3 separate regions of the Homo sapiens genome follow, and all the other regions are reported to be linked to region 3. The links are microRNA targets in miRTarBase. Many come from high-throughput screens and were not tested one by one. Region 3 holds a microRNA gene; each other region holds the end of a gene's coding sequence.

Region 1 (3,000 bases), not on the chromosome of region 3:
GGGAAACCCACTCTCTAGGGCTGGCTTCCAGCGCAGCTGTTTGGAGAAAGAGCTACCCTGGAGAACCTTAGTCACTGCTACAGTGGTAGAGAAGACGGAGCACAGGAGTAGCTCCTCAGGGAGGAGGGACACAGACCACACCCCCAGCTCCTTGGTGACCTCCAAGGGAACCAGCTGGACGGCAGCAAATGGGCTTTTCCCCCGGCTTTTTCTCAGCTCGCTGTGAACCCGGCCCAGATGCATCCCATGCTTACTCATAGAGTAAAGCAAGCCAGGTATGAGGCAGTTACAAGCCAGCAGTTTTTTATGTGATTGATTCTATCTTCTCTGGAGATGCCCCAAGATTCTCTGGAAACAGTTAGGCCTCAGTATTTCCTAGCCAAGGAGCAAGCTTCCAGGAAATGAGCGAGTGAGCCTCCAATTGTATATGTAGACGTAAAAACAGCATGCATGCCCCTCCACCACCAAGCCTTTTTCATTTCCAAGCTTTTCTCTAATCACCAGGATCCAAACACCTCCAGCCCAGCTCCCATCCCCGCCCTCCTCCTCAGCCTTGGGCCCACCCACCTCTGTCTTCACAAAAGGTGCCCCGCTGGCCGGCACCACAGAAAACATCCAAGCCCAAGGTACTCATGGTTTGTGTGTAAAGGGTTTTTATTGGAGAGCCTGTGGCGCTGAAGTGCCACCAAGGATTTGGAAGGTCACTTTCAGCAGCCGCCATTTCTGCCAGGACCAGTGGCAAGCACCTGGCAGATGGAGCCCGGGTGTTTCTGCGTAAGGCAGAGGAATCCAGCTTTTCCATGAGATTCAGCTGCAGTTGTCGAAAACCCTGTGTGAGCCAGCAGTTCCAGTTCAAAGGTTGAGGGGGCGAACAGCTGCGAGGTGGCCAGGCTCCCGTGAGTCACCACTCAGGCCTGAGTACACCGTGGAGAGGAGAGATAAAGCAGCCACGGCTGTTCTGTTGCCAGTCCCACCCCTCTGGCAAACAGATGGGGGAAAACAGAGAAGGAAAGTCAACAAAGAAGGTGAAATGCAGGGAGCAGAGACTACACGCAGGCCCCCCGTGGCTGGCAATACCATGCGTGCTGGGCCGGCTGCGCCACCCTCACCCAGGGCTTCCCACGGGCTCTGCTCTTTCCTGCAGAGGCGAAACTGCCTTCCTGGCAGGCGGAGGCTGCCGAGCTCCCATGCCCCTTCCCACATATCCCAACTCTTCTCAGAAAACTGAAGAACCGAAGATGGAGGTGAGTCAGGAAAGGCTGGAGTTTTCATCCAAAAAAAAAAAGAGCAGGACAATAAACAGGCAAATACACAAACCCTGGAGCAAAGCCAGGAAAAAAGGGGGAGATAAAAAATAAAAAAATAAAAAACACCTTTCTAGAGAGAGCAAAATCCCAGGGTCCCGAAGGCACTGCTAATAGACTAATAGAAGCATCTTTGTTGCAGCCAATCACCTCTAGCCTGGGAACACCGCTAGTCAGGAGGCCTCAATCAACCTGAGAAGTCAGCCCAAGGCCCTGTCTCCAGAAGCCAGCAGCAGATCCCTGGGTCATGTCACAGGCAAGTCCTCACTTCACCAGCTCAGAGGTGAGCCACTCTCACCTGAACCTCTGCCTTCCGGCAGGGACCTCCTGGGTCCTGTGGGGTCTCCTGGGTCCAGGTGGGTTCCTAGTCCAGCCCCGTCTAGACTGACTTCAAATATAGTCCCCTGACAGTGTGATTTTTTCCAGCCAGCCAAATCACCGTTCATTTTTAAAATGGTTTTTAAAAATTACATTTCTAAGGCAAACAACGTAGAACTGTGACAGAGCAGAGGAACAACAAAAAAGCACAAAGAATGTTGCTAATCACAGGCTGCCTAGCACTTTCCTTTCCCTTCAGAGAAGGAGAAACTGTTTTATAGGTATCACACACGTGCACACGCACACACGTGCACACACACACACACACACACGCACAGTTTTTCCCTGATACTGGAAATTCTTTGTGAACTAGCCACGCTGATTTCTGCTGAACCTTTTTTTTTTTTAAAAAAAAAAAAAAAGGAAGAAAGAAAAGGAGCCACAGACGTGTCCAGGTCTGGAAGGGGCTGACCAGCTCTAAGCACATCCACCTTGAACTCTGACACAGGTAACGCCAAAATGAGGCCAGGACCTGACCAAGCCAAAAAAGCAGCAAAGGATCAGATGGGGTCCAATGTGTAGATCCAGTAGAGAAGAATGTCGGAAATTCTAAATACACAGTTGGACATCCTTCAGGCTTGTTTTAGATTCTTGATCCTCCTGATCTCTTTTACTATTGTCAACAATTGTCTTAAAAAAACTTCTTTAAAATCAACATGTTTCTACCCTTTGCTCCTTAGCAAGGCACAAAGCCTCTTACATGGGGAGTAGAAGTAGGGGGCACTTTAAAGGGATGCCCAAAGGGTGGCAGAAGCAACTCCATTGTGGTGACGTGGAAACGAGCTTGCCAGTGACAGTCTGAGCAGATGCCTGACACGCACGATGGAGCTGGGGTTTTATACATAACGTTCGTTTTGGTTTCAACACCTCCGACGCAAGAGGGCTTCCAGGTCCAGTCCTTCACACCCCAGGTTGCAGCTGACCAACTTTCCACAGGATGCCACCAGGCTGGGAAACAGGTTTTACCTAAAAGAAAGGGAAGGACAAGAGTAAGCCCCTTCTGGCAGAGCCTCGCACCCATTCTGACCCCTCCTGAACATCTCTATCCCTCACCCTCTCAGCCAGTGAAAAGGCCACAGTCCCCAGCCACAGGACCTTTGAGCGTGCTGTCTGGAAGGCGCAATCCACTCTTCCAGCAAACCCCCTCCCTCCCCACAGTTCCCAACTAAGGATCCCTCCCCCAGCTCCCCACACAGACTCCCTAGAACACAACCTCTTTCTCCTTATATCCCTCTCCTTGCCAGCACTTCCAGGGTGTTTACACTAGGGGTTGGAAAACTTCTTCTGTGACAGTCCAGAGAGGAAATATTGTAAACTC
Region 2 (3,000 bases), not on the chromosome of region 3:
AGAGCTTCCTGAAAACTTAATGAGTTGCGGGAAATAGAAACATGACATTTATTACTAGCCTGAACAATACCCAATTATCTCTCCTCCTCATTCTCCCTAAAGGCAAAGCCTGATTAAGAACCACCATGGTTTGGTTCTCCAGCAACTTTTATTGGCCAAAGGATGCAGAAGGATATATGGTGTCTGTGGTTTAATTAACAGGATCGTTTATAAAACAACTTTACATTTATCTTATTTTTAAAATTCTTGCTTTTGAATAAGCTGATGTGTTAGAATAGACATGCTCCTATCCCATGCAAAAAGCTGTTCAAAAATGAGCAGCTTGCAAATCTATCATAAATGAGACATTGAATAAAATATTCTTACAGTGAGGTCTAAGAAGTAGTTCAGTCTGAGAATTTGCTTCAGATACTTTTTGAAATAAAATATTCAAGGCATAAAAAAAGCAAAACTCAAAATATCTAAAACAGATACATACTGATATTTTTATCCTAGTCATTTCCCAGAGTTTTTATGTGTCTCTGTGCTCTGCTGATTAAAATAAACAACAAAAGCAGTAGGCATCTTCTAACTAAAAGTTAATTTACTAGTCTTCAACTAAAAAGTCACAGTGGAAGAACATATATAAGGTGAAGAAAGCTTTTTAACCTTTCAGATTTAAATAATACTGCATTTCAACTTTAAAGAAAGGTTCCACCATATATTTTTTGCACTGACATTTTAAAATACAAGAACAAGTCTTTGTAATACAATATATACTTCAATATACCCAATATACCTTATATGAATTAAAAACATGTCAACTGGATAACTGTAGTAAGGCATTTAAGTATTCAGCAGAAGCCATAAAGAAATTTCTTAATGAGTGGTGTCCATTTAATATTAACTGGATTTAGTAGGTTTCCTTAAAATGAACAGGAAACAAAAGATGTGAAAAACAGGCAGTGATGCCATTATACTGAATTCCAGAAAAAGCACAGTACAATGTGTTTTCTAGCAGGGAGACCAGCAAACTGGAAGTGGATGAGCGGCCCCAGCTTACATGGTCTATTGTATTTGATCAACTGCTGAGAGAAGTATTAGTAGCCCAGTAGGTTTGGGTAAAGGTACCAGAATCCTTAGTGCTAGTCTCACAGCCAAAAACAGAGCAGGTACTCCAGATATACTTCCTGAACTGACCTGGATGAAGAGGCTTTAAAATCAACAGAGCTGGACAGTATAAAGTTCACGGAAAAACTCAATTTTTCATTTTATTTTGGTATATTAGTGAATGTCTACTGATCTAGTATTTCAAGTGTGGATCACGTAAACACCATGTAGAATGTAGTAAACGGAGTTAAATAAGAAAACACACTGGCTATCAATGCCAGAGTCTTTGAATATCAGGTCATAAATATAACCAATTGTGCAATATAACCAACATGATGAGAAAAGCACACCTCACAATTGACAATTTTAGTTCATATGATTAAAAAAAATAAAATCTGAAACTGCATTTAGTGCCACATTCTATCATATCATACATCAGATTCCATGCTGTGGAGCCGCACTGGGCTACAGGACATACAGTACATATAGCATGTTTTAAACCGAAAGTGAAAGGAAAAATATGAAACAGAAAATTTTTACATACACATCTAACGGTGTTGTCCATTTAATTCGATTTATATGATTTGCTGTGCCACTTTGACTGGCTTGCAGAACACCCCAAATTCTCTTTTCCCCATAAAGATCTACTTCCATACAGAGTAGAAAAAGATGGTGGTAAAAAAAACTTCAGATTCTTCAGGTTCCAACGATTGTGTCCCAAATGCCACTGTATGAACACCTAAAAAATATTAAGAACAATTTCAAAATCTGCATAACTATAAATGCAAAAGTAAATACAGCTTAAAGCCTAAAAGAGAATTCGTGAATATCTTGTCTTTTAACACTTGCCTGTGCCTACTACATGATGTCGACTATAAATAAAACGTCCACTGTGGTAAATGGGAAAAAAGAAGAAGCTTTAAAAAGTTAAAGGGAGACATTTGTCAATTTTATAAATAGGCCTCCTGTTTTAGCAAAAGGCACATTCATTTAGACCTCAATCAATCCAGGAAGGGCTCCTCACTGACATAAGGAATCAGGATATCTCACCCTTCCCATCAACCACCACCTGCCCTTCCTTTCTTTCTGAACAAGAGCATAAGAATTTCCTATAGAGTATAAATTCTTTCAGTTAGAACATCCAACTTTAACTTATGGGTTCTTCTCCTTCTCTTTTTTTTTTTTCTGAGACAGTTCTCACTTTATCGCCCAGGCTGGAGTGCAGTGGTATGATCTTGGCTTACTGCAACCTCCGCCTCCCAGGCTCAAGCAATTCTCCTAAGTTTCATGAGTAGCTGGGACTACAGGTGCACGCCACCACGCCTGGCTAATTTTTTGTATTTTGTAGAGATGATGTTTCACCATGATGCCTAGGCTGGTCTCGAACTCCTGAACTAAAGCAACTGGCCCACCTCAGCCTCCCAAAGTGCTGGAATTAGAGCCACTGCACCCGGCTGGGATCCCCTCTTTTTCATACTGCAGCTTCCCAAAGCTTTAACAGGCCTCTGCACTTGAGCTTGCCAGGAACTCAGGGCAGGGAGGTGTCCAAACCCACCTGTGTGCTCTCCTAACAACCACACTCCTGAGCGTTCGGGGCCTGTGCGCGCCGCGGTGACCTCAGCTGTCTCAAGGCAGCATCTCCGTACTGAATACCTGAGCCCATTCTTTCTGGGTCCAGCTCACCTAAGGACCAAGCAAGTCTTCTTTTAAAAAAGGCTTTTATGTTTCTTTGATTCCAAAAATAGATTAAAAAAAAAAAAAGCAAAGTACAGAACACTGTGTATATATCCCACCATTCTGAATAAAGGGAAAAAACTATATATATGTTTGCTTGCACCGGCACAAAACATCTCTAGCAGGATACATAAGGAACGGCTGATTCGGAGGAGTTCTAGATGGCTGAGGACAGGA
Region 3 (4,315 bases):
CTTTAAAAGACAGCCCCCTCTAATTGATGCGTCTGGGCTAGTCTAGACTGGTAGTGATTGAACCAACCACCAATTATGTTATTCATTTCACTGAACTTCACTGATGGGCTCGGTGAGGAAGAAGGGGTGTTGAGAAACCTGCCCTTGACTGAAGCAGTTGCCTGCTGAAATATAAAATCTTGTGTCGTTATGCACTTTTAAATGCCTGGGTGATCAGTTGTATGATAGCAACCTCGGAACATGAGCAATCCACTTGAAAACATGTAAAAACCTGAGAGTGCCTTGAAATACAAATTAAAACACTTGTATTAAATTACTACCCTGTTATCACTGAAAATCACGGAAGAATTTTACCTGGCATGTTTTTATTGATCCATGTATACATTTTCATAGAGTAAACTGCAGATATATTTTAACTTCAAAAAGCACCAACTGTTTTACAAATGTTGGATATGAATAATGTGGTAATATAGATTCGTAAGTTAAATAGATGCCTTGCTATAATTTCCAAATACCTATGCATACACATCAGCTAAGGTAGGGGAAGTCATTAAACCATTGAATATAAACTAACGATGACTCGACAATCAAATAACTATTTTTTTTGAAGCACATTCGGACTATCAAAGACTGGAAAGTAATATTCTAATATTACTACACAAGAGGTTTCAACAAAAGACGTGGTGCAATCGTTGCATAGTTCATATTCTCAGTTCAATTTTCTGATACAAAATGGTTTCTTGATTGCAATTTGGCATTAATGACTAAAATTGCAATAAACACTTAAAATAAAAAACAATAACAGGCAAAGAACAGTTTCCCTAACCTTCAATTACATGTATAAAACAAGGCTACAACCAATATAAAGTCTTTAGAAGAAGAAAGCATTTGGATTGGGGTTGATTTAGGTGTTTTTCAAACATAGAAGAGAAATGTTGGCCCAATAATACGAAAATTGTTTAAATGATATTTTATACTAGAATTTTTCACAACAAAGGAAAGGTAAGTTACTGTTTCTCTTCCCCAACTACGAGACAGCCCTAAATCACTGAAATGATTCAGTTATAAAAAGTTACAGCTCAAGAAAACTACAAACTAGGTAATGCTAGCCATTACCTTAAGAAAGGATAATTTTAAATGTACAGTTTGGGTGTTATAAAACCTTTTTTGGATTGAATTTAAGTACTGATAAAATTTTCCTTAGTTTTAAAATGAAAACCAGTATTTGTTACTCCCAAAGAATACGATAATTGTGTTTGCTGTTGCTGTTGCTTTCATTTTACATATTTAGAAGATTTATTTCCAATCTTTATCACCTTTATATCCATAAAGTATAACATTTTGTAAAAGATACCAAGCAAGGAGGTGGTATCCCTCCTTTTATTTTTAAAAAATCTTGCAAAGTCATACAAACTTAATTTTTATTAATACCATAACTTCCATCCTTTGTGTGGAATTGCAAGAATAGAATTTTAACCTATTAATATTTTACTCCAAACTATTAGTTTGCCTTTATCTGCGTCTGTATGTTCACTGTCTAGCCATCCATGATACACATGTGTGGACACTGAATATATAATATATTCACATGCCCATTTTAATTGGGCACAATTTTAAGATTAACTGTGGAGTTTGAAAGTTGGAGACATGGGGCATGCTGGGACTTCAGCTGAGATGTTCTGAGGTCAAGCACCAGGTACTGAGCTGTTCTTGTTACGCTCGTATACTACTGCGTGTTGCTCTCAAGGAATAGACCAGGCAGATGAGTTCCACAAGCCTCAGGCATCAATAACATGCATACATACACATAGCAGCCAACACGCTATTAAAGCAAAATATATACCTACTTTAACAGAAATCCAGGAGCTGCCACTCTCTGGTCACCTGATCCCATCTAACAATGAAAACCTCAGAGGTATACTCAATCACCTCAGACAAACTTTCTTTTCTTTTGTTTTTGCTTTAAAGAATAAAATTCCACCAAATTTCCAGGATGCAAAAGCACGACTCGCAGCTCCCAAGAGCCTAACCCGTGGATTTAAACGGTAAACATCACAAGTTAGGGTCTCAGGGACTGAGAGGAGCGCAACAATGTTTTCTTTCTTGAGACAAAGCAAAGCAAAACAAGAATGACAGGCAATTTCTGTTCGAGGTTCATAACTAAGATGCAACAAACAGGTGGTATGGTATTTCTTCTCTAAGCTCCTTTCCTTCACAAAATTGAGATTCCGTTTAAGCCTAATACATATATACACACATACGCAGTATCTGGGGGCGCATATACAATCACGCACATACACATACGATCACGAGTACATCAGAGAAAACTCTTTCAAGATTTGGGCAAAATAGTTCACTAAAACGGAAAATAATATGCACAGACTCAGAAATGCCCAAGTTTTTAAAACCATAGTCTACAATAAGGATTTAGTGTCTTTTCAAAGCTTTAATTTACGACTAGCACAAATGACTGAAGAGAAAATAGGAGGCATCTCTTTCCCCCAGGGCAAGTATGCCGCATGCAAAAATCATAGAAATCGGGTTTTCAAAGGAGAAGACCAAGAAGTAGGATTCGGAGGCTATAGAAGTGTAAAGACGAATAGCGTTCTGAACTCACCCATTCGAAGCGGAGCGGGGCCCGCACAGCCTCCTGTGGCACCATCCCGAGCAAGGGGGGAAAATGAGAGCTCTCAGTGCGCTAGGCTGGGCGAGGTGTTTCAATAGAGGACGGAGAACGGGGGCGGGGAGGGGAGGCGGGGGCAGGAAGCGATACACCAAATCTCGAGACTGTAACTCTGTAGCTTATGCTTTGACGAGAGAAAAAAGGGCAGTTGGGTGGGAGTGGAGGGAGGGGCTGGAACTGATCAAATTTGGAAAATATTCACTTAAAAATTAAAAAAAGGCGGGGGGGGGGGGGGAGTATGAAACCTCCCCAGAGCTGCTTTTTGAAAAATTTCTTCCTTCTTTCTTTAGCGTGCACTTTGCCAGTCCTGCAAACGGAGGCTTCGTCTGCATCAGCTGCTTGGCTGAAGTCAAGGCCAAATCACCAAGAGCGAGCACCAGGCTGTCATTTGGTAGACACGAAGTGGGAAGGGCTGGGTGCGGGCTGGGGAGAGACATTCCCCCCGCACCTCCCGCTGCGGATTCTTTGAAGCCTTTGGCCAATATTTCAGAGGAATCCGAAGCATAATTCCCCTCCATCTTCGCAGACAGCCCCTGGTTCTGTACCTGATAGATTGTCGCTTTCCTCATCAGACTGGAAGTGGGGCTTTCCTGTGCCGCCACCAAAAATGAAAGGAAAAGGAGGGGAGGCAGATGGGAAGATGACCCTTTTACAAATGTTTCTTCTCCTTTTTCTTTCTGTTTTTCATTTCATTTCTTTCTTCTTCTTGTTCTTCTTTTATTCCAGGCCTGAGCAAGGTAGATGGCTGGCTAGTCAAAGAGAATGACAAAGCAGCCACAGCCAGGAGGACACTGGAGAGGCCTCAACGCACTTAGTAAAAATGCTAAATATTTTTTTAGATATTTCCATATGCAACTAAAAACAGTTAGAGCTCTAGACTCTCCCCCTCCCCTCCTTTAAAAATGGAATCATACTAGCAACACAGCTAAATTATGTCTCTTCTCCCTCTGTACAGTGTCTGTTTAGCAGCCCCCCCACCCCCACCTTCAAGACAACTTTTTTCTCACCTCTGTGGGTTCTTCTCAGGCACAATCCTCCGTTGAGCTCAGAGGCTCTCCTTTTTCTCTCCCTTCCCTTTTCCTTTTCCTCTCAGAAAAGCTAGTCTGTCATCATCACACCTAGCTTCTCTCTCGCTCGCTCAACCTCTCTCCTTTTCTCTTTTACCATTAAAATATAATAATAATAATGGCCCTTTCGACATAGCAGCATGAAGTGGCTGCCTTTGAGAAGCACATTTAATCTTTACTGGCTCCCCTAGGCTTCAGTGAAGAAGGAGAAGGCAAGGAAAAAAAAAGGAGAGAGAGAAAAAAAGATTGTAAGGGAGGCTGCTGACGGACAGCAGGCATCAGGCACAAATCAGCGACAAGTTGAATTTTCCTAGACCACACTGCCCCCTTTCTTCTCGGCTTGCTCCCTGGGCTCCTGGAAAGCCTGAGTGTCTGGTTACAGGAGGCAACGGGTCTCTTTTTGCCAACCATGGTGCAGATTCCTCGCATGCCTGCTTAAATCTCTGGCAGAATAAGAAATCAATATCCCCCTCTAATCACCTTTAGCTCTTCGATGGCTTCCCCCCTTTTCTGAGAATCCACTTGGCTCTCCTCGCCGCTCCCCCGCCCTGCCGGGCTCCTACAT

The links. The annotated mature microRNA hsa-miR-125b-5p reads UCCCUGAGACCCUAACUUGUGA and lies in region 3 at 2,053-2,074, opposite strand. An mRNA with a match to its seed (bases 2 to 7 or 8) in the 3' UTR can be bound and repressed. Matches are read on the target gene's strand: a 7mer-m8 pairs with bases 2 to 8, a 7mer-A1 pairs with bases 2 to 7 and ends in A, and an 8mer does both.
Region 1: the mRNA of FAM174B is a reported target of hsa-miR-125b-5p. Seed matches in the 3' UTR shown: 7mer-A1 at 1,965-1,971.
Region 2: the mRNA of RAB4A is a reported target of hsa-miR-125b-5p. The part of its 3' UTR that is shown has no 7-base or 8-base seed match.

The regions. Positions count from the first base shown.
Region 1 is chr15:92,616,812-92,619,811 of GRCh38, forward strand. FAM174B (family with sequence similarity 174 member B) reads right to left here. Exons shown (of 3, transcript NM_207446.3): 3 at 637-2,648. The coding sequence ends at 2,645. Among named protein-coding and RNA genes, the nearest start is that of FAM174B, 37 kb to the right of the region's middle.
Region 2 is chr1:229,302,634-229,305,633 of GRCh38, reverse strand. It overlaps RAB4A (RAB4A, member RAS oncogene family), which reads right to left. Exons shown (of 8, transcript NM_004578.4): 7 at 2,645-2,772; 8 at 1-1,828. The coding sequence ends at 2,657. Among named protein-coding and RNA genes, the nearest start is that of RAB4A-AS1, 33 kb to the right of the region's middle.
Region 3 is chr11:122,097,757-122,102,071 of GRCh38, forward strand. It overlaps MIR125B1 (microRNA 125b-1), which reads right to left and starts at 2,088; the gene lies at 2,001-2,088. The region is part of intron 4 of MIR100HG (mir-100-let-7a-2-mir-125b-1 cluster host gene); the gene reads right to left.